2 separate regions of the Homo sapiens genome follow, and region 1 is linked to region 2. Evidence: fine-mapped expression QTL. A gene starts in region 2. The other region holds a variant in brackets. All regions are shown on one strand. Distances are from middle to middle. Region 1 overlaps RMDN3 (regulator of microtubule dynamics 3). Region 2 holds the start of GCHFR (GTP cyclohydrolase I feedback regulator).

The links.
Region 1: its variant is fine-mapped to the expression of GCHFR in whole blood (TOPMed, PIP above 0.99).

Annotation. Positions count from the first base shown.
Region 1 is chr15:40,735,054-40,748,509 of GRCh38, forward strand. RMDN3 (regulator of microtubule dynamics 3) reads right to left here. Exons shown (of 13, transcript NM_018145.3): 5 at 9,924-10,206; 6 at 8,994-9,096; 7 at 5,080-5,140; 8 at 3,448-3,523; 9 at 2,912-2,989; 10 at 2,575-2,673; 11 at 2,235-2,288; 12 at 2,071-2,151; 13 at 834-1,541. The coding sequence ends at 1,488. Among named protein-coding and RNA genes, the nearest start is that of RMDN3, 13 kb to the right of the region's middle. RefSeq lists an enhancer at 5,476-6,348 and a silencer at 11,540-11,709. The variant TC/T (reference allele first, on the strand shown) is at 4,246.
Region 2 is chr15:40,757,315-40,772,399 of GRCh38, forward strand. It overlaps GCHFR (GTP cyclohydrolase I feedback regulator), which reads left to right and starts at 6,754. Exons shown (of 3, transcript NM_005258.3): 1 at 6,754-6,902; 2 at 8,513-8,607; 3 at 9,912-10,394. The coding sequence starts at 6,867. The coding sequence ends at 10,035. It overlaps DNAJC17 (DnaJ heat shock protein family (Hsp40) member C17), which reads right to left. Exons shown (of 11, transcript NM_018163.3): 11 at 7,847-10,748. The coding sequence ends at 10,626. It overlaps LOC124903474 (a long non-coding RNA gene), which reads right to left and starts at 3,954. Exons shown (of 2, transcript XR_007064599.1): 1 at 3,493-3,954; 2 at 3,160-3,412. C15orf62 (chromosome 15 open reading frame 62) reads left to right here and starts at 12,666. Exons shown (of 1, transcript NM_001130448.3): 1 at 12,666-15,085. The coding sequence starts at 13,182. The coding sequence ends at 13,709. It also overlaps the pseudogene SUMO2P15. RefSeq lists a silencer at 6,318-6,767 and enhancers at 6,434-7,299, 8,077-8,866, 11,327-11,945, 12,564-13,182, 13,136-13,225 and 1 more.

The DNA.
Region 1 (13,456 bases), 23 kb before region 2:
CCAGTCTGGCCAACATGGTGAAACCCCGTCTCTACTAAAAATACAAAAAAAATTAGCTGGGCGTGGTGATATGCCCCTGTAATCCCAGCTACTTGGGAGGCTGAGGCAGGGGAATTGCTTGAATCAAGGAGGTGGAGGTTGCAATGAGCCAAGATCGCGCCACTGCACTCCAGCCTGGGTGACAAAGCGAGACTCCAGCAAAAAAAAAAAAAATCTGGGTTGGTATAATAAAGACACAGTGACATTCTAGATTAAGGGGTTGGTTCTTATATGAAAGCATCTCAATCTTTTTTTTGAGACAGAGGTTTGCTCTTGTTGCCCAGGCTAGAGCGCAAGGGTGTGATCTCAGCTCACTGCAACCCCTGCCTCCCAGGCTCAAGTGATTCTCTTGCTGTAGCCTCTCTAGTAGCTGAGATTACAGGCGTGCGCCACCATACCGAGCTAATTTTTTCTGTCTGTATTTTTAGTAGAGATGGGGGTTTCACCATGTTGGCCAGGCTGGTCTCAAACCCTTGGCCTCAAGTGATCCACCCGCCTTGGCCTCCCAGAGTGCTAGGATTACAAGCAACAAGCATGAGCTACCACGCTCGGCCTATGCATCTCAGTCTTAAATTTTCTTCTAGGTGGATTTAGGGGTTTGTGCTCGTGGCCCTAAAAATGAACATGAGAAAGGCAGGGAGTACCTGCTTAGTTGCAATAGGCCTTGTTTAGGCTAAAAATAAGCTCGATACCTGTATTTTATATACTGTAAAGAGCATTAACCATAACCTGCCTGCAACAGCCTCTGTAGGTAGAAACAATTATGGAGGTGTCAAGTAAGAATAAAGAGCTGATAACATCAAATTTGGTTTATTTCAAGTTTGTAACAAAATATATTCTAGGCAACTTTTCAGACATTGTTTTATAGCATCATAAACCCCATACCACTGCTGTCATTCCAAAAGCTGCCAGGACACTGGAAGTTATCAAGTGGTCCAGCCCAGGAATACAGGTAGAATTCACATGATAGGTGATAAGAAAGCAATGTCTGTGGGCCACTCTGATCCCTCTTTTTACCTTGGTAGGTAAGGTATGATCTTAAGACTATATGTACTGAGTCCTATTAGTCAGTGAAAAAGATTAAAGTGACAAGTTATGTGCTTTGTTCCTATAGCTTTGAAGTTCATCCACCTCACCAGCAATTGGAAGGTCTCAGGTCTTGCAGGCTCTACCCATGTGTAATCCTGGGGCAGGTGTGAATCTTGATTTTTTTAAGAGATTACTCAAGGGAGAGAACAACAGAAACGGAAGCCATGAGTACTGCCCCAATTCTAGATTAGGTTAGAGGTTAGAATAAATTAACTAATGGGGAGTGGTAGTGGGTAGCAGTCAGACCCAGGAGACAGATTTGTGTGGTTTCCTGATCTCAGCAAGGTCTAAGGAAAAAAGCCTCCCCGCCCCCCCACCTTAAATAGTGGCATCAAGTCATGAAGGCCAGTGAAACGTGGTTAGTCTCGTAAAATGACTTCCAGTTCTTCCAGGTCCTTCTGGATAGCCAAATCCTAGGGAGACAAAGAACAAATCTAGGGCTCAAAATTTAAACCAGCATTTTCCCAAACCAGTGGAACCTAAGAAGAGGGGCCCTTTGCTTCCTTCCTGAGCTCTGCTACAGTCTTTTTCCTACTTCCCCAGGATAGCCTGGAGCCTATTAAATCTGTCTCTTCCCCTAGAGGTAGACTCTTTTTTACTAGGGAAATAAGACCTCTAGGAAAGATTATTTTCTAAAAATGTCACATGATGATTCAGTGATGACAGGCAGTTTTGTTTGGTTTTTTTTTGAGATGGAGTTTTGCTCTTGTTGCCGAGGCTGGAGTGCAATGGCACGATCTGAGCTCACTGCAACCTCCACCTCCCGGATTCAAGCGATTCTCCAGCCTCAGCTTCCCGAGTAGCTGGAATTATAGGCGTGCGCCACTAGGCCCAACTAATTTTGTAATTTTAGTAGAGATGGGGTTTCTCCATGTTGGTCAGGCTGTCTCGAACTCCCGACTTCAGGTGATCTGCCCAACAGGCAGTATTAAAAAGCCTTACCTCCTTCGTGACATCTGGCAGCTCCAGGGCCAACTTCATCCACCATCTAGCTTCAGAGTTTTTCCCTAGTTCTCTGTAGCACTGAAAAGAGACAACAGTGAAACCTGATACTGTGTACTTTCAGGAGTTCCCAGATCTATGTTGAAGTAGACAAATGAGTTTACCTTGGAAATATATACCCTTCCTGCTTTGGAAAATCCTGGCTGTAGTTCTTCAGCCTGGGAAAAGGGACAAAGATATTTCAGTAAGAGGTTCCTATATTCTAATCAGGCTGAAGTTTATTAAACTAGATTTCTAGTCCCCAACCATGTGGCTGATTCAGTGGGTCTGAAGAAACCTATATTTTTGATAAGCTGTGCAAGTGATTCTGGTTTTCCCATAGAACAGGCAAACACAAAATTGCCCCCGACTAGGAAAACCCCTCCCATTAAGGGTCTCAATAATGTCCTTAGGAAAAAACAAGGTTACCCTGGTGTTTTTGCCTGCCACCTGCCCCTCTCATACCTTTAGGAAGCTCTGGAGGGCATCTTCCACAGTGGCACTGAGAGGGCTTTCAAGCAAGGCTGTAGCAGTTTTTTTTTCTAGCCAGCTCAGGTGAGAGACCTGCCACAAAAAGATCAAGGTGTGTATAAGAGGTTTTAAAAGGTTTTTTTTCTTTAAATCTTTGGGGATATATTGAAAATAGGGTCAAACGGGGCTGGGTCGAACCACCAATAATACGAGCATTCAGAAGAAAGGGCACCTGAGCCAGAGAAGGCTGAGGATCTTGTTCTTCCTGGCAAGGAAATCGGTGTCAGAAGGCATTTAGGACCATTATGTCAAGCACTGAAACGCAGCTTACCTGATAGCACCACCTGCCAAGAAGAAAGTGAGCCATGGGGTTTTCTGGCTGGAGAGCAATGGCTTTGTCCACATGCTCCTAAGGGGAAAATGTAAATATAAACTAACATCAGACACCAGAGTTGCTAAAAGAGAGGCAAGGGCCGGATGCAGTGGCTCATGCCTGTAATCCCTGCACTTTGGGAAGCTGAGGCAGGTGGATCACCTGAGGTCAGGAGTTCGAAACCAGTCCTGGCCAACATGGTGAAACCCCATCTGTGCTAAAGATACAAAAATTAGCCGGGCATGGTGGTACATGCCTGTAATCCCAGCTACTTGGGAGGCTGAGGCAGGAGAATCGCTTGAACCCAGGAGGTTGCAGTGAGCCAAGATCACACCACTGCACTCCAGCTTGGGCGATAGAGTGAGACTCTGTCTCAAAAAAAAAGAAGAAAGGCAAGTCACTGAGGCTGTAGAAAAGTTTTTGGCAGGGAGCTGGAAAGGAGTGGGGAATCTGGGATAGGCCAGCACAAGGAAGGAGGAAAAGCCTGTCCTCACCTTGAAGCTAAAGCCACTCTGGATGCGCCTCTGGATGCTCTCATGCTCAGCCAGCTGACCACAAAGCACCGCATACCTAGGGGGGAAGCAGCAAGCTCAGGGACAAGGGCTGAGTACCATCACTGCAAGGAATGGATGCCCCAACCACAGCCTAGTTGCATTGTCCCCTATCCCTGTACCCTCAACTAGAGCTGAAAATACCTAATTTTCATCTGTACGTAATCCCCATTCTTTACGGACCTCTGGCCCCAATTAGTATTCTTTAGTAGATAATGGTAGGCTTACAAGTCTCCAAAGTATTCTAGGTATAAAAAAAGCTGGGTTCACCACAGTAAATCTCTCTTACACAGTAAATCTCTCCTACACTCATAAGGAGTACAGCCACAGGCATTAATAAAAACTTGAAAAGCATGAAAACAATCAGCATAAAAGTATGAGACCTGACTATACTACTTATCTTCTGGGCAGACAAAAAAGTGGGTCTCATTAGCCTTTAAGCATACAGGTGTATCACTGGGACTTGGGAAGCAATTTCTTAGGATAGTCACATTGGGAGGGGATATTCTAGGAATTTCTGATGTTACTTGGAAACCAACAGAACCAGAGGAAGAAAGACCTCCTATATATGCCTTCTCCCCCACATCCCCCCTCCCAAAGGGAACCAGCCAGCCAGCTTCCCATCATCTGTCTTCAGAAACAAAGTCTTACTTCCCCATCCCCCCAGCATTGTTCCTAGCAGCACAGTTGACATTCGATGAGTAACCAGCCCAAGTTGCTTTTTCATGTATATGCTAAGTA[TC/T]CGGGGGGTATCAGATACTTCTAGAGGCTCATTTCCATGTTTAATCCAAACAGCTGTTCCTCAGGAATAGCTGTTCATCCTTGGAAGCCCAGGGAAGCAGTGACACCCAAGAAACAGTTACCTGGCCTCTGAGAAGAACCCTTGCAGAGACAAAAGTTTCAGCAACAGATGGAGAAACACAGCCTCTCACTTAGCTCACAGTCTGAGGGTGGAGACATGGAAAGCAAGGGTGGCGGTGGGAAAGGAAAGGAACATTTTCACTAAAACTCAGGTGCTGGAACCAGACCCCAGGATATGAGTTAGCCGTGGCCCAGGTAAGCTGACAGAACTTTGCCTCACATGAGACCACAAAAAGGGCTGATGTTTTTGCAGCCTAATAAATTGACCACTAAACTTCTGGGGGGTGAGCTCACATCTACTTTTCCTCACATGAACCAAGCAAAGAAGCCAAAGTACCAGCAGCCAGGGATCACACGCAGGGGAAAGAAGAGCTTATGCAGGATAGGGGAGCTGCAGATTGTCCCAGCCTCCTGAGAGCCAAGAACTCCAGTTTTGTAGCTAGGATGACTCTTAACAAAGCTACTCATTTCTCCAAGCCCCATCAGAAAAAAAGCTTGTATTCCCCGCTTGCCTCATCCCTAAGCCACCTCCCCTACCAGAAACTTCCCTTGTCTCTGGCTAGGGGTAGACTGAGGCATGTGGAGATACAAGCCAGAACTCCCTCTCCTGGATCCTTTGGAAAATGCCTCTGTGGCCCAGGCAGAGAAAAGAAAGGGCTGTCCTCTGCTTTGGCCCTTGCTGGCTCTTCCCAGAACACTGCAGGGTGTTATTACCACAGGTGACAGTCAGCACTCTCATCCCCCTTCTCCAGAGCAGCCTCTGCTTCTTCTTTTCCTGTAGGACGAAGGTAGATCCAGAGTTGACATAGCTCTTATGCACACTTTCATAGGAAGGCTTGTGGGAAGAATGACTGCTTTAGCTCTCACCAATCCCTACCCAGCTTGGACTTGTTTGGAAATAGTTGTGAACTTGAGCAGAATGAAAGGCCGCAAAGAAGCCAGTCACAGTGGCTCACGCCTCTGTGCTGTGTAATCCCAGCACTTTGGGAGGCTGAGGCGGGTAGAGCGCCTGAGGTCAGGAGTCGGAGACCAGCCTGGCCAACACAGTGAAACCCCATCTCTACCAAAAATACAAAAATTAGCTGGGCGTGGTGGCAGGCGCCTGTAGTCCCAGCTACTCAAAAGGCTGAGGCAGGAGAATCGCTTGAACCCAGGAGGCAGAGGTTGCAGTGAGCCGAGATTGCACCACTGCACTCCAGACTAGGTGACAGAGCAAGACTGTCTCAGAAAAGGCTGCAAACGGCTTCTAAGGGAAGACTTCAGGGATGACTTCTGCTTCACCTTGGCTTCCCCATCTGTCATTAGAAACCCCAGTTACCTTCTTTTTATAATGCCCACCTGATGTGCTTGAAGCAGATTTTAGCATTTAAAATATAAAAGGATCCAGCCAGGCACGATGGCTTATGCCTGTAATCCTAGCACTTTGGAAGGCCGAGGTGGGTGGATCACTTGAGGCCAAGTGTTTGAGACAAGCCTGAGCAACATGGTGAAACCCTGCCTCTACTAAAAATATAAAATTAGCCAGGCATGTTGGCACATCCTGTAGTCCCAGCTCCCCAGGAGGCTGAGGCAGGAGAATCACTTGAACCTGGGAGGCAGAAGTTGCAACGAGCCAAGATTGCACCACTGCACTCCAGCCTGGGCGACGAACTCCACCTCAAAAAAAACAACAACAACGGATCCAACACAATCAGAAATTGTCCCCAACAGACCTTACTCTGGAGGGGCAGTGTCCATGAATCTCAAGTTGTATAAAATTTAAGTAAGTGGGGAGAGAGATCACAGCTTTGAAAAAATTCCCTAAAGGGGATGGGTACATTGGCTCACACCTGTAATCCTAGAACTTTGAGAGGCCAAGGAGAGGATAGCTTGGGACCAAGAGTTCAAGACCAATCTGGGCAACATAGGCAGACCCCATCTCTTTAAAAAAAAAAATTCTCAAAAGGATCCACGATCCAACAATATTAATTAGCTCTAGGCCAAAACTCTTTCACAAGAGCCACATGGACTGAGGTCTGACCAGAGATGACGTTCACTTAGTCTTACCCGAGTTTTCTAGGTTAGTGTTCTAACAAAGAAATGAAAGCCCATAAACATGAAAGTTCTGACAAGCGTCACTTAAGAGTATCGAGGCTGGAGCTTACGGACCACCAGATAAGGACCATCATGCCTATGCACTGGAGAAGACACTGCAACATAGGATTTTTTTTTTTTTTTTTTTTTTTTTTGAGACAAGAGTCTCACTCTGTCGTCCAGGCTGGAGTGCAATAGCACGATCTAGGCTCACCGCAACCTCCGCCTCCAGGTTCAAGTGATTCTCCTGCGTCAGCCTCCCGAGTAGCTGGGATTACAGGTGTGTGCCACCACACCTGGCTAATTTTTGTATTTTTAGTAGAGACAGTTTTGCCTTGTTGGCCAGGCTGGTCTCAAACTCCTGACCTCAGGTGATGCGCCCACCTCAGCCTCCCAAAGTGCTGTGATTACAGGTGCGAACCACCGTGCCCAGCCAAGAATTCTTTGAAGAAAACAAGTTTGGAAGGGAACATGGAGAAAATGGAACAAATGTAATGCATTGAGGTGGTAAACTGGCTAATCTGAAATGTTTTCCTTTTTTTATTTGAGACAGGGTCTCTCTCTGTTGCCCAGGCTGGAGTGCAGTGGTGCAATCTCAGTTCACTACAACCTCTGCCTCCTGGGCTGAAACAATCCTCCTGCTGGCATGTTCCACCACCATGCCTGGCTAATTTTTTAAGTTTTTTTTTTTTTTTTTGTAGAGACAAGGTCTCACTATATTGCCCAGGCTAGTCTCTAACTCCTGGGCTCAAGCAATCCTCCTGCCTTGGCCTCCCAAAGTGCTAGGATTATAGGCATGAGCCACCACACCTGGCCACAAATGCATTCTTAAGACAACTGATGCTGTGAAAGACTCTACCTCTCTTCCCAAAGAGAGGGACCACATGGCCCCACCAATGAGGGACGCTGCCTCTTTGGGGATTTCTCTCTGCCCTCTTCAAAGTACTGTCTCACTAGGAAAATAATAGCAAAGAATGAGACAACTAGTTCCTGCCAAGCTAGACAGACAGTGTTGTAGACAAGACATTGCCTGAGACCCCACAGAATGACTGCCTCCTGGTGGTCCAGCTCCTAGAGATACAATGAAATAAACTTTATACCCAGTAAGGATAATTCTTAAAGGCTGTGATCTCAGAGCAGAACCTTCAAAGACATTCCATAGTCATCTGACCTCCAGCAGGTAAAGCTTTGTCCATGGGTGCTAAGCTCAGGAGGCCAGACCAACCAAGTGCTGCCCTGCTAACCACTGCCTCCACTTCTGTCTTTGGGGTTCATGCTGGCTACTAGCACTAATAAGAGATGACCAATGATCAAGAGGGAAAGGAAAGGTTGTTGACATGAAGAGTCCAAAAATCAGCCCAAAAGCTGAGAATCCTCATCTGAAATTTAGGAGGGAAAACAAACTTTTGGAGAGAAAAAGTAATCATAAATAAGCATCTTTTGTTAAAACTTCCAGGAATTTTTCTGAGGGTCTACAGAGACATCCTACTCAATTGGTCTGTTCTTTCTCCATTGACAGAATTCTACAAATGTTTAGAATGTTAACTTTGAGGTACTGTTTGAGTATACATTATCAAGGATTCAATAATATTTGTAAGGCTGTACTTACAATAGAAAGGTAGACAAATCCATTTTAGACAGTTAACTGGCCAGGCACAGTGGTTTATGCCTGTTATCCCAGCACTTTGGGAGGCCTAGGTGGGTGAATCAGTTGAGGCCAGGAGTTCAAGACCAGCCTAGCCAACATGGCGAAACCCCATCTCTGCTAAAAATACAAGACTTAGTCGGGTATGATGGCATGTGCTTGTAATCCCAGCTACTGGGGAGGCTGAGGCAGGAGAATTGCTTGAGCCCAGGAGGTGGAGGTTGCAGTCAGCCGAGATCAGGCCACTGAACTCCAGCCTGGGCAACAGAGAAAGACTGTTTAAAAAAAAAAAAAAAATAGATATTAACTGAACCACAGACCTAGAAACCCATTACCCATTGATGGTACCTGACTCAGTGTGTGGAGTTCAGCAGGACACATCAGTCTCTAAAGTCCAAGCATTCTCTGACCTCATGACAGATAAGGCCAAGCCCTGAGCCTGGCACAGGTCAGATGCACCCTATCCTCCAGGGTGGAGCCTTTGCCAACAGACTTGCCAAGTGGATTCCAGAGTCTTCTAAGCTAGCTATATTCTTAGAACACCTGCCCCACCAGCTCAGAAAACTGAAACCAGATTTCTAAGCAGCAGCAAAAAACCTCAGGTTAAGAAAAAAGGTTTTGCCCTCTGTGGCTAGAGTGAGAAAAACGAATAACATTGATAGGATACAACTACTCCTAGAAACACATGCACGTGTGTTACTAATCAGCATGATATACAGATAAGCAAAGACTGCTCTCTTCTTCCAGAGGAGAAAGCAAGGGTCTTTGGGAGCCAGAGTTTGTCCCTAGTGGGTAACTGAGCCACAACTGCTGACAGCATCTTGGTGGTTCCCCGGGTCCCCAGGCAGATGGGCCAGCCCCACCCCTGAATCAGTCAGTCACCTTCCCACAGGAAGCTGTCAGCACTTACCATCTAGGGCATATGACTTCTTCTCGCTCACCTCCTCAGTGAGCTCACACATGTCACTGTAGGCTCGGGCCAGGCGCCAGAGAAAGTCCTGCCGGCTTCCATACTGCAGACCAGACAGAAACGGGTGAGGCCCCTTTTTCCTCAACTGTGGAGAATGGGGGCCTTGGCCTTCCCCCACACCCTAGGTTTGAATTTCCAAGCTAGTATGTTACAGTCATCAATATCAGGCCAGCTCCTACACGCAGCCTTCCCCCCAGTCATCCCTTCCCACGTGCAGTTAATGTATGACACATTCTCTGTCTAGCCAGTAGCTTGCACAATTACGGGGTGAGGGCATTCTGACCTCCTAGAACTGCTGGGAGGAAAGGTCAACTCCAAGATGTCATAAGGCACGAGAGGTCTTTTGCTGACACATGAAGAAAGTGTGAAAGGAAAAGGGAAACTTCTAACTTCTGGGGGGGGGGCATTTATACCTGGGTGGGCATATATTCTGTCAGTGAACCTGACAAGAGAATTATGGTTGAGTGACCTACACAGTTGTCGCTTGTAATGGGGCTGGCAGCTTGGACTCTGCCTCAAGGGAAATGAGGAGAAAAAAAAAATACAGTTCTTTCCACATTTCCCCCTAGAGGTGAGAGGTAGAGCTCTTTCTGCAGTAGCTCTACAGAAAGCAGAGAACTACACTCCCCCTCCCAAGAGGGGAGGCAGCTCTGGGGCAAGCAGTACACTGGCCCTAGGATCCACGCTGGGCCTCCTTGGAAGAGGATATGTGACCTGGGGGACAGATGCAAAACCAGCTGTCTCACCATTTCTCGTCCCATGTCACCTTGTAGGGGCAGTAACCACACGGGCCTTCATTCCCCAGGGGTCAGGAACAGAGAGATGGAGGGAGGGAGGGAAGGAGAAGGAGACAGGCAGCTGGAGCCTCACCACCAGCTTGTTGTTGAGCAGCAGCTGGAAGCCCTCCCGCTTGCCTTGCTCATCACCCCTGTGCAGCTCGTCGGCCTGCTGCAGGAGGGGCAGCACATCCTCCAAGCCTGAGGAACCTCCAGCCTCCAGGGCACTGGAGGCACCTGAAGCTGCCTCTTCCTCCAAGTCAAGAGAATCCTTTCTCCCCATCTTCACAGTCTCACAGCTCACTTCATCTTCCCCGTCCTCACTTTCTTTGTCAGAGTCCCGCTCATTGTCAGACTCCGCATTGGCTGTTGTGTAACTGGCAGAGAAATGTAAGGGACAACAAGAGGATTATTCAGCTCAGAGCCCCTAGGGTCTGTCTATCCCTCACCCCCAAAGAAGCACTCTACATGGCATTGTCCAAAGCACCAAATCACAATCATTCATACCTCTTAAGGGCAGACTTTTTTTCTTTTTTTTTTTTTTTTTTGAGACAGGGTCCCGCTCTGTCACCCAGACTGGAGTGCAGTGGTTCGATCTTGGCTCACTCAAACCTCCACCTCCTGGGGTCAAGCAATTCTCCCACCTAATTTTTTTGTATTTTTAGTAGAGACGGGGTTTTGCCATGTTGCCCAGACTGGTCTCAAACCCCTGGCCTCAAGTGATCCGCCCACCTCGGCCTCCCAAAGTGCTGGGATTACAGGCATGAGCCACCATGCCCAGCAGAAATCATTATTTGAGAGAAAGTTTCCTATGGGAACTAAGGGCTGGGAAAATGATCCAGGAAGGAAAGAGCAGACAACCAGCTGAGGCCCTGTGACAGTTAAGGCAAATGTGAGAAGTCCCTGCTCGTTTTTGCCTTATCAGTCAGAGACACTTGCCACAACCAACATGGGTGGGTGCAGCCTCAGGCCATGGGCAGCCACACACACATCCACAAACTCGCAACCTCTGGCCCAAGTCAACAACCAAACCTAAACCGCAACAGGAGTAGCCCATAGTAACCTTGAGAACTTAAGGGTGTGAGGAGAGGTGATAGGAACCACTTTGCAGCCAGAAGCAAGAAGGGGAAGACAATGCAAACTACCCCCTGAAAAGGTGTTTGGGGGGCTGCCATATGCCAGGTGGCTCCTAAGGAGCCCCAACCCTGATGCACCCACTAAAGAGGAAGCTGAGTTTCTCTTGGATCTCAGCCACCAGCAGCTGATTAGGGTGTTTTCCCTAAATGCCTAAAATAGATAAGGACTGAGCAGGGGAAAAGGTAGGACTTCTGGGGGTCAGAAGCAAACACAAGGCTGGGGGCGGTGGCTCACGCCTGTAATCCCAGCACTTTGGGAGGCCGAGGCGGGCGGATCAGGAGGTCAGGAGATCAAGACCATCCTGGCTAACACGGTGAAACCCTGTCTCTACTAAAAAATACAAAAAATTAGCCAGGCATGGTGGCAGGTGCCTGTAGTCCCAGCTACTCGGGAGGCTGAGGCAGAAGAATGGGCGTGAACCCGGGAGGCAGAGCTTGCAGTGAGCGGAGATCACACCACTGCACTCCACCCTGGGCGACAGAGCAAGACTCCGTCTCAAAAAAAAAAAAAAAAAAGAATAGGCTCCCTGTGGCTGGAGCAAAACAGGACTGAAGGAGAGATGACACACCACCTACAAATAAAGTCAACAACTGACAGCCTAATGTCAGGGCAGAAGTGCTGTCCTGCCCAGAAAACCAGAAACCACAAGGTGGCAGGCTCTGAAGGCTCTGGAAGTGAGCAGCCAGACCTGGTACCCAGTCCGTGCTGACTGCATCCTTACAGAGGAGCTTCAGCCTCATCTAAAAAAGAGGCCCCAGACACATCTACTACAAGAACTTGTAAGGTATTTAAAACCTTTCCTAACTGCACCTTTGTTTTTTAAGAGGTTATCCAAGTAGATTTCCCCTTTAGTTATTAGAAAAAAAAAAAAACACCTTTAGAAATCAAAGGGACAAGGATAAGTGTCATTAGATTTCGTAACCAACCTGGGTACTGATGAGGGAGACCACCCACAGGCAACCTAGAGAATGAAACTCCCAACTGCACCTGCCAGATTGAGAAAAATCAAACCAGAGTCTCCTCTGCCCAGCCAGGCCCAAATGCAAAATGGGTAGATGGTTTATCTGGAACGGGAAGCTGGAATTGCATCATCTCCCTTTGCTAGAAGGAGGGGGAGACCCTATTTCTTGCTGAGTTGAGGGCTGCCTCAGCCAATCAGGAGTCCAAAGAGGAGTCTCTCTGCCTCCAGCACTCCCAGGGAGGGACCTAGCCCTGCTGGAGCCCAGGCATCAGCACAGAATCCCCTGGGACCTGAGCTGCGATGCTGCCATCCCTCTGGATCCTAAAGGCCCAGCTCACAAAGCCAAGAAGAGAGGTCAGGGAGCCTTGCTGCCACAAACAGAGTGAAAGATGGTAGAGCCCTGTGAGGCAGGGAGGCTCCAGGGAAGCTGGCATAGAAAGTAGACTTTAATTGCATCTCAGCCCCACTTTAAGGAACCCTCAACAATCTGAAACCCTACTGCCTGAGGCAGCTTCTGGGGCCTCAGAAGAGATTAATCACATGCCAAGGGCTACCACATTTACACCATTCTCTCTCACTTTCCACCTCCCAGACTAACCCAGCCAGCCTTTGGAGAAATCTACCAGAGAGGAGTGACCCTTTTAACATACCCTGAGGCTTTTGAGATCTGCCAGAGACGAGCAGGGACCTTTGAAAAGGCCCTTTGGTCCTGTGCACTCCGGAGGACAGGAGTTCCCACAGTGGGCCAGAGACCCAAGGCTCCCTCTGAGCAGAGACTGCCACTCTACTCTTAAGCAGTAATGAAGGACTCAGTTACACACATCTCTCCTCCTGGCAATTAAGTTTCTCTTAACCTAAACCATGTTAGAGACTGAGTATGAGGCCTTCAAAGATAACCAGGCACATGGACCCTGACCTTGAGATAAGACCCAACTTAATGAGGTCATAAATGCCCAAGAAGGAGTCTTCACGATGAGGCTGCAGGCAATTTCTCTTGGCTGAGATGCCTGGGAAGGCTTGCTGGAGGAGCTGGTATTTTAGGGCAAGTTGGGTTCTGACAGAGGGAACTCAAGCTGTGTTTGGTACAATGCCCGGGGAACAAGCTCACAGAGCTGCACAGTGATTCTGCCTCTGCCACCCTCAATCTCCTGAGACCTCAAAGTTGTTATTTGGAAGAAGGAAGGAATACAGCTTTCAGTGAAATCAAGCAGCCCATCAAATCTCAGCCCTTCATCCCTCAAAGCAGCTCTCCTTGCCCCAAGACACACATGTTCAAAGCCATTTCAGAGTTTGTAGACTCCTAGAGCTCCCCCCTTGACCTACATGGCAATGACCATGGCACAAAGAATCATTCACCACGGCCACTGCCCTAGAGAACAGCCGGCTCAACCACACAGTGTTGCACCACCACCTGCTCTCATGCCACGGGACTGGGCATGGGACACAGCCTGAAGGCGCTATAATTAAGAAATCCACTCTTCCCCTTGCCCCATCACAGGTGTCTGGCAGCCCTGGCCTGCTCCTTGTGG
Region 2 (15,085 bases):
CCACCTTCCCACCCCCTCCACAGCCCAGCCTGAGAAGAGAGCAGACCAGACCCCAAACTGTTGTCCTGCCCTCTGCCCAGAACATCTGCCTCATCTACCCCGGCTCTTCCAAGAGAGGTGACAAGTCAAATGCCTTGGGATGGTGGCCTTACCCTTGTGTATAATGTTTAAGGTTCTTGATGCCTTAAAAAATAATTCTTTCTCTAGGCCAGGCACGGTGGCTCCCGCCTGTAATCCCAGCACTTTAGGAGGCCTAGTTAGGTGGATCACGAGGTCAGGAGTTCAAGACCAGCCTGGCCAATATGGTGAAACCCCATCTCTACTAAAAAATACAAAAATTGGCTGGGTACGGTGGCTCATGCCTGCAATCCCAGCACTTTGGGAGGCCGAGGTGGGTGGATCATGAGGTCAGGAGTTCGAGACCAGCCTGGCCAACATGGGGAAACCCTGTCTCTTCTAAAAATACAAAAAAAAATTAGCCAGGCGTGCCATGATCTCAGCTCACTGCAACCTCTGCCTTCCAGGCTCAAAATATCCTCCCACCTCAGCCGGGGGTGGAACTACAGGCACATGCCGCCATGCCCAGCTAATTTTTTACTTTTTTTGTAGAGACAGGGTCTCCCTGTATTCCCCAGGCTGGTCTTAAACTCCTGGGCTCGGACAATCCTCCTGCCTCGGCCTCCTAAAATGCTGGGATTACAGGCATGAGCCACCATGCCCAGCCCTTTTAGAAATATATATATATAATTTTTTTTTTTGAGACAGGGTCTTGTTCTGCCATTCAGGCTGGAGTGCAGTGGCACAATCACCACTCACTGTAGCTTTGAACTCCTGGGCTCAAGCTATCCTCCTACCTCAGCCTCCCGAGGAGCTGAGACTGCTGGTGTGTGCTGCCATGCATGGCTAATTTTTCAGTAGAGACAGAGTCTCACTATGTTGTCCAAACTGGTCTCAAACTCCTGAGCTCAGGCGATCCTTCTGCCTTGGCGTTCCAAAGCACTGGGATCACGGGCATGAGCCACCATGCCCAGCCAGAAACTTTCTTTTTTGTAGAAATGGGAGTCTCACTGTGTTCCGCAGACTGGTCTCAAAATCCTGGGCTCAAGCAGTCCTCCTGCCTTGGCCTCCCCGAGTGTTGGGACTTACAGGTGTGAACCACCCAACCTAGCTCAAAAACTTTTAGTCTAATTTTGATAGATATAAGGGCTGTTTCCAGTTTTTTACTGGTTACAGTGCTGCTGTGAACATTCTTGTACATGTATCCTGATGGCTGTGAGTTTTCCTGAGGTTTATTTAGGAGAGGTTTGGCTGCGTCACAGGGTATCATTCACACCAACTTGCAAGCCCAACAGTAGTGGGATTGTTGACATCTTCACCAACACTTGATATTTACAGATTTTAACATTTTAAATTTATTTATTTATTTTATTTTTTGCTAACCTGTAAAGCACTATCTCACTGCAGATTTAAAATGTAGCTTATGGCCGGGTGCGGTGGCTCATGCCTGTAATCCCAGCATTTTGGGAGGCCGAGGCGGATGGATCACGAGGTCAGGAGATCGAGACCATCCTGGCTAACATAGTGAAACCCCATGTCTACTAAAAATACAAAACAATTAGCCGGGCGTGGTGGCGGGCGCCTGTAGTCCCAGCTACTCGGGAGGCTGAGGCAGGAGAATGGTGTGAACCCAGGAGGCAGAGCTTGCAGTGAGCCGAGATCACACTACTGCACTCCAGCCTGGGCAACAGAGCAAGACTCCGTCTCAATTAAAAAAAAAAATGTAGCTTAGGCTGGGCACAGTGGCTCATGCCTGTAATCCCAGTACTTTGGGAGGCGAAGGCAGGAGGATTGTTTGAGGCCAAGAGTTGGACACCAGCCTGGGCAACACAGTGAGACTGTCTCTACAAAAAATTAAAAAAAAAAAAATTAACTGGGGATGGTGGCATGTGGGAGGTGAGGTGGGAGGATGCCTCAAGTCCAGGAGCTCAAGGTTACAGTGAGCTTTGATCACACCACTGCACTCCAGCCTGGGTGACAGAGCAAGACCCTGTCTCTTAAAAAAAAGAAAAAAAGTAATTTAGTCTTCTGTACTCCTGGTGTTGCTTATGTGCTTGTTTGGTTGGATCTGGTACTGTTACCGCAACATGACCTCAATTCTTTTTTTTTTTTGAAATGGAATCTCACTTTGTTGCCCAGTGTGATCTGGGCTCACTGCAACCTCCACCTCCAGGGTTCAAGTGATTCTTGTGCCTTAGCCTCCCAAACAGTTGGCACTACAGGCACACGCCACCATGCCCGGCTAATTTTTCTATTTTTATTTTATTTTTTTCAGACGGAGTCTTGCTCTGTCACCCAGGCTGGAGTGTAGTGGCTTGATCTTGGCTCACTGAAATCTCCACCTCCCAGGTTCAAGCGATTCTCCTGCCTCAGCCTCCCGAGTAGCTGGGACTACAGGCACCCGCCACCAGGCCCAACTAATTTTTTGTATTTTTTAATAGAGACAGGGTTTCGCTGGGCAGAGAGCAGCTGCCCAGGCTGGTCTGAACGCCTGACCTCAAGTGATCCACCCGCTTTGGCCTCCCAAAGTGCTGGGATTACAGGCATGCGTCACTGTGCACAGCCAAATTTTTGTATTTTTAGTAGAGACGGGTCTTCATCATGTTTGCCAGGGTGGTCTCTAACTCCCAGCCTCAGGTGATATGCATGTCTTGGACTCCCAAAGTGCTGGGACTACAGGCGGGGGCCACTGCGCTGGCCCTCAGTTCTTTCAGGAAGTCCCAAAACCTGTGAAATTAACCATCCTCCCAGCTGCGCTTGCTTACAGAAACAAAGGCCAGGTGCCAATAACCAGGAACCAGCCACAAGATGAACTGAACTCAGCAGTGCTGCCTTGACCTGAGTTACTGCTTCACTGCTATACTAAAATCTCCACTCAGTGCGGAGAAATGTACCTTGCTAAGCACAAACAGTGCCAGGTGCAAAAAGAATCTACACACTCCAGCTGCTCCTGGAAGAACCCATCCAGGAATCCCTACCCCAGTCTTCACCTATCTGCCCAAAAAACCCTTAAGATCCCCCTTTACCCAATGTCCAGGGAGCAGGTGCTTTGAGCAGAAGCTCCCCTTTTCCATTCTTGACCAATGAACGTTTCTGCTCTGCTTTACTGAACCTGGTTTCATTTTATTGGTAAGAACTGCACTGGACGGGTCAAGCGACCCTCCCTTGAGGGCGGTAACAGTACCTGCTTTGTGAAGCAGCAGCTGCAGAGATTCTGGTGCTTGCCATGGCCATGGAAGCTCAAGGAAGAAGTTAAGACTGAGAACAACGATCATATTTGTTTGAAGGTGGTGTGGCAGGATAGTTCTGTGGCGCAGTTTAAGAGGCATACACTGCCTAGTAAACTGATGAGAGCCTATTGTGAATAACAGGATTTGTCAATGAGGCAGATCAGATTCGGATTTGATGGGCAGTCAATCAATGAAACAGACATACCTGCACAGTTGGTAATGGAGGATGAATACACAATTGACGTTTTCCTGCAGGAGACAGGTGTCTACTAAAAAAGGAACCTACTACTTTACTCCAAACCTCTGTTCTTACAGACCAAGATTACATCCTCAATTAGAAAACTGCAATTTGGTTCCACTACATCCCGACCAATATAGTATAGTTTTATTTCATTTTCACCTTCCCCTTTCCTTTGCTGTACATACAGTAATGGGTATGTGTGCACCAGCGTATTGCATTTGTGTTTTTGTTTGTTTTTTTGTAAAATGGCCAATGGTGTGTTCTGATTGACATCAGGTGGAGATGGGACTGGGAAAAATACTGCTTCTGTGAAAATACCCCCTTTCTCCATTCTTGGCATGCTCATTCAGCTCTTATCTTTTTTTCATATATTTATTTTAGATGAAGTCTTGCTCTGTTGCCCAGGCTGGAGTGCAGTGGTGTAATCTTGGCCCACTGCAGCCTCCGCCTGCCAGGTTCAAGCGGGACTACAGGCATGTGCTACCACATCTGACTTTTTTTTTTTTTTGAGACAGAGTCTCACTCAGTCACCCAGGCTGAAGTGCAGTGGCATGATCTCAGCTCACTGCAACCTCTGCCTCCTTGGTTCAAGCGATTCTCCTGCCTCAGCCTCCCGAGTAGCTGGGACTACAGGTGTGTGCCACCACGCCCAGCTAATTTTTGTATTTTCAGTAGGACAGGGTTTCACCATGTTAGCCAAGCTGGTCTCGAACTCCTGAACTCAAGTGATCCACCCACCTCGGCCTCCCAAAGTGCTGGGATTACAGGCATGAGCCACCGTGCCCGGCTCAGCTCTTGTCTCTATATTCCAGTGAGTTATATTTTGCTCTGTTTTAACTAAAAAATGACAACATAAAAATCCTTCCATACTTTATTCAACTGAAGAATTTTAATGTTTTTCATTTATCATTGTAAAAACCAAGGACAATTGTATAACTTAAAAAAATCCTTCTAATCAGTGGATGATTTTTGTACATAGCTTTCACATGTAGGGTAATCTGTCTTTAAGTAGGGATAAATTACTTAAAAATAAACCAAATCATGGCTCACTGCAGCCTCAACCTTCTGGGCTCAAGCGATCCTCCCACCTTGGCCTCCCAAAGTGCTTAGATTACAGGCGTGAGCCACTGTGTCTACAAAGTCTTGGGGTTTAAATAAATTTGGTTAAAATGAAAAAAAGTAAAATTGACTTTAATTTGTATTTCCTGTATTTCTAATGATATACTAGGCATCATGTTATATGTTTATTGGTCATTTCTATTTCCTCTTTTGTGAAGGGCCTATTCAAGTCAGTTACCCCTGTTTTTTCCATTGTTCATCTTTTTCTCACTGAGTTGTAGGAGCTCCTGGGCATCAATCTTTTGTTAGTTTTTTTTTTTTTTTTTTTTTTTGAGACGAAGTATTGCTCTGCCCCAGGCTGGAGTGCAGTGGCCCAACCAATCTCGGCTCACTGCAAGCTCCGCCTCCCAGGTTCACGCCATTCTCCTGCCTCAGCCTCCCGAGTAGCTGGAACTACAGGCGGCCCCCACCACGCCCGGCTAATTTTTTGTACTTTTAGTAGAGACGGGGTTTCACTGTGTTAAGCCAGGATGGTCTCGATTTCCTGACCTCGTGATCCGCCCGCCTCGGCCTCCCAAAGTTCTGGGATTAGCAGCGTGAGCCACCGCGCCCGGCCCTTTCGTCAGTTTTAACACATCCTTTGTTAAGCATGAATGTGTTTTATCTCTCTGGCTAACTTGTTAGGTCAGTGGGTAAGAGGGCAGGGGTAGGAACTACAGAATAATAAATTAGACCAGTTAAGGAACGTTTAGGATTACAACTTCCTGCTTCCCTTATAGCTCTCTCCACGTCTGTCAAAGTGTTGGAACGGCAGCATCCCCTATAAAGGCCCCTCTTAAAAAGTGAAGATTATTACCCTCCCATGGGAGGGAAGGCTACCTACAGGCTGTTTTTGTTTTGCTTTATTTTCTAGAAAACCAATCACAGGCCGGATGCGGTGGCTCACGCCTGTAATCCCAGCTCTTTGGGAGGCCAAGGCGGGTGGATCACCTGAGGTCGGGAGTTCGCCACCAGCCTGACCAAAATGGAGAAACGCCGTCTCTACTAAAAATACAAAATTAGCCGGGCGTCGTGGCGCAGGCCTGTAATCCCAGCTACTCAGGAGGCTGAGGCAGGATAATCGCTTGAACCTGGGAGGCGGAGATTGCGGTGAGCGGAGATCGCGCCATTGCGCTCCGGCCTGGACAATAAGAGCGAAACTCCATGTCCAAAAAAAAAAAAAAAAAAGAAAAGAAAAAAGAAAACCAATCACAACAAGGCAGATAAAGAAGGATGAGTTGTCAGATTTTGATAACTGCGGATGAGGGGCGTGGACACACGGTTGGGAACTCGCAGCCGCTCATTGGTGGCTGGTGCGGGGGAAGTTGTTTCATTTGCCCCAGGTGTTGCCCAGTGACCTCCTGCGCGTGCGCCGCGTCTGTCCAGCTGCGCGGGAAGCTCAGGGGAGGGAAGGCCAGGTTCCATCCATTCAGTCACTCCAGACCTGGCACCCAGCCAAGCGCGCGGTTCCTTTACAGACTTTCCTGCGGGTCCACAGAAATGCAAGGATCCGCCTCTGTGCTGGAATTAGAGTCTGGGAGGGGGAATGCACAGTGCGCCCTGGGTGGTATTTTAGTTGTCGCCTTCAGGGCTAGCTCCGAGCCTCGTGCCCCGGCCTCCTCAGCGCTTAAGGAATCTCTGGAGCGCATGTCTTGGCGAGGGGAAGTGGGGCCCCGTTGAAGCTGTCGAGGCGTCTCTGAGAGGGGTGGGCTGGGGCCTGGAGAGGCCTCCGTGAGGACGCCGTTTGCTCTGGGCTCTGCCTGGCAGGGGACTTTGGAACCTGGCCTGAAGTGTTCAAGAAGCGGGCGCGGGGGCAACACGCGCGCGGGGACGCAGTAAGATCACAGGCTGCAAAGAAAACAGCACTAAGCGTCCTGGAGGACGCTGGAGCTTCAGGATAGTGTCCTTCCAGGTCGTGGGACCGCCCCCTCCTCCCCGCACTCCACCTTCCCGCAACTGGATCACTCGGCGGAAGCCTCAGGTGGGCCCCGGGGTCCAAGTCCGCCGCCGGGAGGGCGGGGGCGGGCCCCGAACCGCCGACTGCAGGGCGCGTCACGGCAGCCGCTCCTGATTGGCGGCCACGGCGGTCACGGGCAAGGTGCCCCGGGATTGACGCCGCCTGTGGCCAGAGCCGGAGTAACGGGACTCCCAGCTGCGCGTCGCAGTCCCGACGCGAGAAGGGCTGGAGTCGGCGTCCAGCCTAGAGCCCCCGGTGGGAGCCAGGCCGGGACGCGTGCACCATGCCCTACCTGCTCATCAGCACCCAGATCCGCATGGTGAGTACCGGCCGCCTGGCGACTTGGAGCCGGGACCAGGCCCTAGGGGGCTGCGACTGCACCTTCATGCCTCCCTCCTGGGCTGCACCCACCGGGGACTGGACCGGGAACCCGCCCAGACACGCCCCCTTGGCCGGGGAGAGGGAGTGGAGAAGCGGGCTCAGCTCGGCTTCCGGGACTCAGCGAGCTCTGGCCGGCCTGAAGCCTTTATTGCCGCGAAGGGGCCCGGGTACGTGCGTCCCGGCAACAGGGCGACCTCCGGGCGCTTCCGGCTCCTGTCCTACCTGTCGGCGGGAGAGACCCAGGGAGCCCTGGCCTCACGCGCAGCACCTAGTGCCCTGCACAGAGCCGCTCCGCAGGGGAAAAAAGGGCGAATAACCTGAGAGAAAGAGGTTTGGAAAAGATAAGGACCTGCCAAGGCGCTAAAACCCCGGTGCCAAGTCCTTGACCCATAAACAGCAACTAGCTGCACCCTTAGGCACTTCCAGGAAGGGCTATCCCTGAAGCTTTAGGGAAGGAAGAAAAGAAAGAACACCCTGCTTGGAAAAAAGGAAGGCGAGAAGGGGCTGTGCAGTTAGAGGTGGGAACACCATGAGTTAGAAGTCACGTTCCTTTCTCTGGGCGCAGTTTCCTTATCTGTAAAAAGGTTCTGATTGCCCCTCAGGAGTCCCCTTTTAGCTTCAGAAAGACATGACGGGCAGCAAGGTGCTCTCTGCCCTTGCTCACTGCCCAGTGCTGGGGTGAACCAGCAAAGGGTACACAACCCCCTTGGTGGGTTCACCACGCAACAGAGAGCTCTTGCAGAGCCCTGGGCAGCGGTTTGTGAAGCAGCCATCTGCTCAGCTGCCAAAATGTGGATTCCTGGGTCCCTTCCCAGACCTCCTAAAACTCTGTCTGGGGCTTGGGAACCCATACTTGGAAATGGCCCCCCAAAGTGATTCTTATTTCTTAAAAGATATGGCTTTATTGATATGTAATGTGCATACCATAAATTCTTTGATTTAAAGTGTACAATTCAGTGTTGTTGTTTCTTTAGTGTACTCAGAGTTGTGCAACCATCACCATAATCAGTTTTAGAACATTTCTAATACCCCAAAAGGAAACCCTGTACCCACTGGCAGACACTCTTGATTTCCCCCAAGTCCCTCAGCCCTAGATAACCACTAATTACCTTTCTGTGGTAATGTGATCTGAGTCTGGCTTCTTTCATTTACATGTTTATTTTGTTTTGTTTTTTTGAAATGGAGTCTCACTCTGTCACCCAGGCTGGAGTGCAGTGGTGCAATCATGGCTCACTGCAGCCTCAAACTCCTCCCACCTCAAGCGATCCTCCCACCTCAGCCTCAGTAGCTGGAACTATAGGCTCGTGATACTTTGCCTGGCTAAAGCTGAGCTTTAAGGCACTAGGGAGGGCGCCTACATTGCTCCTCCTGATCATTGATGGGCTCCACCCCTTCACAGCTTGTGCTCAGCCCCTAAGAATCCTTGCTACTCTCTGTAGCCTTTACCTGAACCTTACTCAGGGCTAGCAGGCAGGGGAGGAAGGACAGGCAAGACCTTCCACCTCCTCCTGGCAGCCAGCCAAGCAGCCACTGTGGCTTACCTTGCAGGAGGTGGGCCCCACTATGGTGGGCGATGAACAGTCGGATCCAGAGCTGATGCAGCATCTGGGGGCTTCAAAGAGAAGAGCCTTGGGAAACAACTTGTAAGTAGCAGCCTCCCTCAGTATCCTCTCCCTGCCAGCCCCTAGACCTGCCTCTGCTCCCTTTATACAACCTCCAAGCCCAGGGACAGGGCCCAGCATCAGAGCCCCCTGCCTGCATCCTGGGGCTCTGTTCTCCGGAGGAGTTGGTCCCATCTGTAGCCTCTCCAACATCCCCCCTCTCCCCCACGAGGCTTGCTCTGAAAGCTTTCCACATCCTTACTGGAACCGCAGAAACAGAGTCCGTTCCCTGGGTCTAGGACTCCACTAGCAGACTGTTCCTTGCCCTGCCCTCTCCTAAGCTGGACCCCATCAAGGACAGACAGGCACAGAGAGAAAGGTTTTTGTCGTGAGGATCTGCATGAGTCGCAAAGCTAAGCCCTAGAAGCAGGGAGCAGGGAGCCTGCGTCCTACCTCCAGGGTGGCTGCTGCCTGGGGACCTAGCCATTTCCCTTGGCATTCTTCCTAATGCCTCCATGTCTAAACTGTGACTACTGCTTCCATTCCTCCTCTCACCCCTGGAGGCAGGGAGAACCCAAGCTACACAGGCTCTCTGAAAAGAGTTGTCAGAGTGAGTGCCAGTTCAAATCGGGGAAAGAGGAGGGCTGATCCCAGCCCCTGGGTCAAGGCTCGGGGACAGAAGCCAGCCCCCTCCCTTTGCCATGAGGCACTTGCCTCTCCATGCCCAGCTTGGGGCTTGAGCCCTTTGTCTGCTTCATGGTCTTTCAGCATCAATTAAACCTGACAGAAGGACTACCAGCACTCTCCATGCTAGGGAGTGGCGCACAGAGCCAGGAGCTACTGGGGCTCAGCCTTGTTGCTACAGAACTGCAGGACAGCCAGGGCAGTGAGGGGCCTGGAGGCTTATTTTTTTTTGAAATGGAGTCTCTGTCGCCCAGGCTGGAGTGCGGTGGTGCAATCATGGCTCACTGCAGCCTCAGCCTCCTCCTACCTGGAAGCCTGGGTGGGGAGCAAGCCCAGGGAGGGCGGCAGCAGGGCTGTGGTCAGACTAACATGGTCTACCATCTGGGACGCTGGGGAACCTGATTAACCCCTCTGTTTTCTCATCTATCAATGGCCACAACAGTGGCACCTTCACTAGCTTGTTGGGAAGAATAAATGAGATAGCTCGTGAAGTACCTAGAAGGGGAGGAGGCAGGGGGCGTGCACTTACCCCAGCGCCCAGCAAGCAGCCAGCAAGTGTGAGTCACTACAAGAGTGGCCAGGCTGCCTGCTGCAGACACTAGCTTTGTACCAGGAGCTTGCTGTGTGCCCCTCCTCACCCCCCCCATCCTGTCTCTTTGCAGTTATGAATACTACGTCGATGACCCTCCCCGCATAGTCCTGGACAAGCTGGAACGCAGGGGCTTCCGTGTGCTGAGCATGACGGGGGTGGGCCAGACGCTGGTGTGGTGTCTGCACAAGGAGTGACCTTCTCATGCTGATTTGCAGACGGGGCACCCCTGTGGAGGGGCTGCTGTGGGCCCTGACCTCCAAGCTCCTGCCTCACCGTCTGCCTTGCTCCTCTCTTCCCAAATCATCACCGCCATGGGCCCAGCCCCAAAGGGCAGTGAATGGCCTTCTCTGAAACCCTGCGTCAAGCAGTGGGAGAGGGCAGTGCCCGGTGCCCTGGTGCTCCCAGCTGCCCTCCTGCTTCGGGCCTGGGCCGAGGGCCTTGTGTAGGCCATGTTCCTCGGGCAGCTGCCCCGGGCCGGAGCTGGGCACTCCAGCGGCCCTGGCGCGTGGCTCCTGCATAGCTAGCCCAAGCCAATAAAGGGCTGTGATGAGTGGCTGCGCCTGTGCTCTGCTTGTGCACGGACTCTGGGACTCTCACCCTGCGGAGCGTTTCCCTGGGGGTCTGCCCACTTCCTGGGAGGGGCGCCAGGCCTGGGTGGAGCGCTCTGCGGCAGAGCCCAGCACCTTATACCTATGTATGGGATAGAGGTAAAATCTTAAAAAAAAAAAAAATTTATTGGTGACGTTGAAGAAAAGGGCTGAGGGGTGGATGGCTGGAGCTGGGGCTACGTAGGCGGCCCCTCCTGGTCTTCCTGCTGCATCCGTGCGATCAGCTGTTGCCGCTCGGCCGCCTGGCGCATGCGCATCATGACGAGGCTCTCGTAGTCCCTCTCTGACAGCACTGAGCCCTGTCGGACAGGGCAGGGACAGGGAGGGGTCAGGGACAGCAGGGCACAGCCTCACAGACTCCGAGTACGGTGCCGAGGCAGTGCTGCGTTCTAAGAGTCTCGGAGGGAGGACGGCAGAGGAAGGGAAGGAACCCGGAGCATCCTTTTGGAATCCTGGCTCGCCTGTGTCCCCCAGAACACGCCACCTTTGGCCTCCAGGCCGGCTTCTACCCAGCCAGCTCCCCCTCCCTTTCCCCAGGCCGCGTCAGCTCCGGTCCATCTGTTTCTCAGGAATCACCTGCGGGCCCTCTAAGCCAGGCCCTCGTCTCCCTTCATTTCCTCTGGGCCCTTTACCCTTCACCCCTTTCCCTCTACCCCGTAGCTTCTGCCTCTTAGGTTCCCAAGGAAGGGAAGTTGTCTGAGGAGCAGGGATGCACTTGGCTCTGCTGGGCACTGACCCTGGCACTCTCTATGCCCGGTGCCCTGTGGTCTGGCTCTTGCTGAGGATGCAGAAGGGAGCCCTACCCGAGGCAGCCCGGAATGCCCCACCCTCGAAGGGGAAAAAGGCAAGCATGAGGCCAGCGTGCCTCTAAAACTACACACCAGGGCTCCTGGAGGGCAGGGCCCATAATCAAAAGAATAATAAACAACCATCTGAATGGGCCAAGGCTGTAGGGTGGAGAAGCAGCTCTACAGCGGGACCTAAGCTGCCAACCCACGCCCTGATAAGGTCTGCGGTGGGAATTAAACCTTTTCCTCCCTCGGTGCCGCTTAGGCTGTGTGATGATCATGTGGTCCCAACAGCTTCTCAGAGAAGTGTGAAGCACACCTGAGTTGGCACAGAAGTGAGCTAGGCCAGGGATTGCAAGATGCGGTGGCCTGCCCGTAGCAGAGAGCTGTGGGGCCCTGATCCGCGGTACCCCGCATGGGGACGCTGTCACAGAGCAAGGCAGGAGGAAAATGTGGTGGTCAGTGACCCGGGGAATAGGAAGGGAGCAGCTAGGGTTGAGATGCCAGGCCCTGGCCAGCAGGTTTGGAGTAAGGGGTGTAGAGAAACAGGAAGTGTTACTCAGCCTGGGTTCCCCTGTTCCTCCCGATGGCTGCACCCCTCCCCTCTCCCCGGCTGCAGCAGTCCCAGCTAGGCCGGACTGCTAAGCCTGGCCCAGAGCACGGCTGACAATTCACGGCAGCCTCCCTGGCCCAGCCTCCTGCAAGAGAAGGAGGACCCCAGAGGAAGCCCGGTAGCCAGAGGGGAAGGGCTGGAGCACAGCCAGGTAGGAGGCAACACGGCCCGGCCTTCAGCAGCCGCTCTCCTGGCAGGAGCCCTCTAGGGTAAAACAAGGGAGGACAAGGAAATAGCAGCCAGGCTGATGGCAGGCCAAGAGGAGGCCACATCTCCCATCCCCAGGTTAATGCTGCTCTGCCAAGAAAACTTGGAGCCACCCTTGGCGGGCCCCCAGCCCAACCCTGGGCAGCAGAGCCCGCCCATCACAGGCATGGCGCTGCTCCCCATTAACACACCCTCTGCCCCCCTTCCTGTTCCTGCTCGTGAGGGCCTGACAGCGGGGCTGAGTCACCCATACCAGCTACAGGTCTCTTCCTTCCCCAACAATCGTTCCACACGCCTGCCTTTCAATTAACTCCCACCCGCCCCGAACTCTTCCTACCCAGACACTGTGGGCAGGGAGCCAGGCGCACCTGCTGGGGGCCCAGGGTGGTGGGGCTGTGATCAGAAAGGAAGCCGCGTGGTGACACATAAAGCAGGGCTGCCCCCACACGAGTCCCCAGAGGAATCTTAAGCTCCCCATTGCCCTGGGGTGTTGGTCCCAGCTGCCCCATCCCTGCACGCGGATGCTGCAATTACCCAAGAGCACGAAACCTGGCTTCCCACCTGACTGAGTCAGCTGAGAACAAAAACACATCTCCACCGCCACAAACAGCCAGGCCACTCATCAGAGTCCGGGAGCCACTGGCAGAGAGGGCACGGCCCCACACTGCCCCAGAGACATATAGGAGCCAGGCAAACACCAGGGCGAGTGAGCTCGGGCCATCTGCTGCCTGCCTGTGGAAGGAGCGCTCGCCAGCCTCACCCAGCCCGAGAAGGTCCACCTCTGCCTCCGCCGGAGCTGCCCTCATTCTGGCTCCAGTAAGTGCTGCTTCTTCCTCCTGGGTTTTTTTCCACTACCCTATTCAGTAACCAGGCCACTCCTGTCCCTGTGGGAAACTCTTGCTGCCAGGAACTCCCAGCTGTCTGCTCTCCTGGGCAAAAAAGTTCCTTCTTCCTGAGCCCTCCTCTCACCATCCAAGATGTGGTCAAAGGTCTGTGCTGAGTGGAAACCCTGAGGCCTCTGCTCCTAGGGGAGCCTCCCCAGCTGCTGGCACTCACTGCCCCAGCAGGGACCACATGCACCCTGGCTGCTCCTGAACACCTGTCTGCTGGCTCCCCTGGGCCCCATGGAGACCTGGCGGAAAGGCTCCTTCCGCAACGCCTCCTTCTTCAAGCAGCTGAGCCTGGGGCGGCCACGGCGGCTCCGGCGACAGAGTAGTGTGCTTAGCCAGGCCAGCACAGCAGGTGGGGACCACGAGGAGTACAGCAACCGAGAAGTCATCCGGGAGCTACAAGGGAGGCCAGATGGCCGGCGCCTGCCACTGTGGGGGGACGAGCAGCCCCGGGCCACCCTGCTGGCCCCACCCAAGCCCCCACGCCTCTACCGAGAGAGCTCAAGCTGCCCCAACATCCTGGAGCCCCCACCTGCCTACACAGCAGCCTACTCTGCCACCCTGCCATCGGCGCTCTCTCTGTCGAGTGCCCTCCACCAGCACTCAGAGAAGGGCCTTGTGGACACTCCCTGCTTCCAGAGGACACCTACCCCAGACCTCAGTGATCCCTTCCTCTCCTTCAAAGTGGACCTGGGGATTTCACTTCTTGAGGAAGTTCTGCAGATGCTAAGGGAGCAGTTTCCTAGCGAGCCCAGCTTCTAAATGGGGTGAGGGTGGGCAAAGCCGGGGTGACTGGAAGATCCAGAGGCTGGGGATTAAGGAAAGGACAGGGACAGGACTCCAGGCCCATCGCTGGAGGGTTCAGGCAGGCAGAGCTTCTTCATCCTGGGGGAGGATTCCAGGATAGGAATCCAGGGCTCTGCCTGCTCTCTGGGTCCTGGACAGTCCTTCCAGGCACCCCAGAGTGGAGGGACAGAGGCAATCTGGAAATGTTGGGGGGGCGGCCCTTCCTGGCAGGACCCTGAAGAAAGCTGGCTATGCCGGGAAAGGGAGGCTGTGCCGGGAAAGGGAGGCTCTGTGCGGCACTACAGGAACCAGGTAGAGGCTGGCAGAGCCAGAAGGTGGCACGGGGTCAGATCAGGGAGTGGGAGGACACAGACTGAGCAGAAGAGATGAGTGCCCCATGCCAGCCTCTTTGGAAGCCACTGTCAACAGAGAGAGGTCACAGGACAAGCTTGGGTAAAGGCAGTCCAACCCAGGCAGAAGAGGAAAGTGGGAAGGCCCAGGAAGAAAGGGGAGAAGGCCTGACCCTGTCTAATCTGGTGGCCACTCACTGCATGACACTGAATTGAAATAAATAAAATTAACAGTTCAGTTCCTCAGCTGCACCGTTATTCCAGATTCCACATTCCAAATGCCCGGTGGCCACACATGATTAATGGCTACCACACTGGTCAGTGCAGAATGGACGTAAACATCGCTGCACAAAGTTCTAATGGACAGCGCTGTCTAGACCATGGCCTGGAGCCACCAGCAAAGGGGAGGCGCATACAGGGGCTGGCCACATAGGAAGAGATAGGTAGAGATAGAGTATAACTCAGGAAAAAGACCAGGCAAATCCTTAGCAGAAATGAGGACGTGGCTCAGTCTGCCAACACAGCTACCCGGAGCAATCCCTGGTGAAGGAAGGCAGCTCTAGAGAATGCCAGCCACAGGCACGCGCACGGCTTGCAAAGGGGTACTTTGGGGAATTCCCAGAATTACTAGTGATGGGAGCCCTGGCAGGTTTCCTTCCTCGAAGAGAGGAGAACTGGATCCAGGGATGGGCATTCAACAGCGAAGCGGCACAGCTGGTTTCCAGAACCGTCTCCCGGGATTAGACAGTTCTGCCGCCTGAACCCTCCGACGATGGGCCTGCCAACCAGGCCAAGCCCACTGGGTCAAAGCCACAGGCTGTGCTACGGCCCCACCCCATGGCCTCACCAGAACACAGAAACCAGAGCCCAGCAGCACTGGCTGGGCCATGTGTTGGTGGCCCCCCGGGACTCGCTAAGAGTAGCAAAGGGGAGAGGGAAGCTCTGACACACACCATTTCTACGACCTAAATCAGTGGCCTCCCTCTTTCCTCCTCTTGTGTA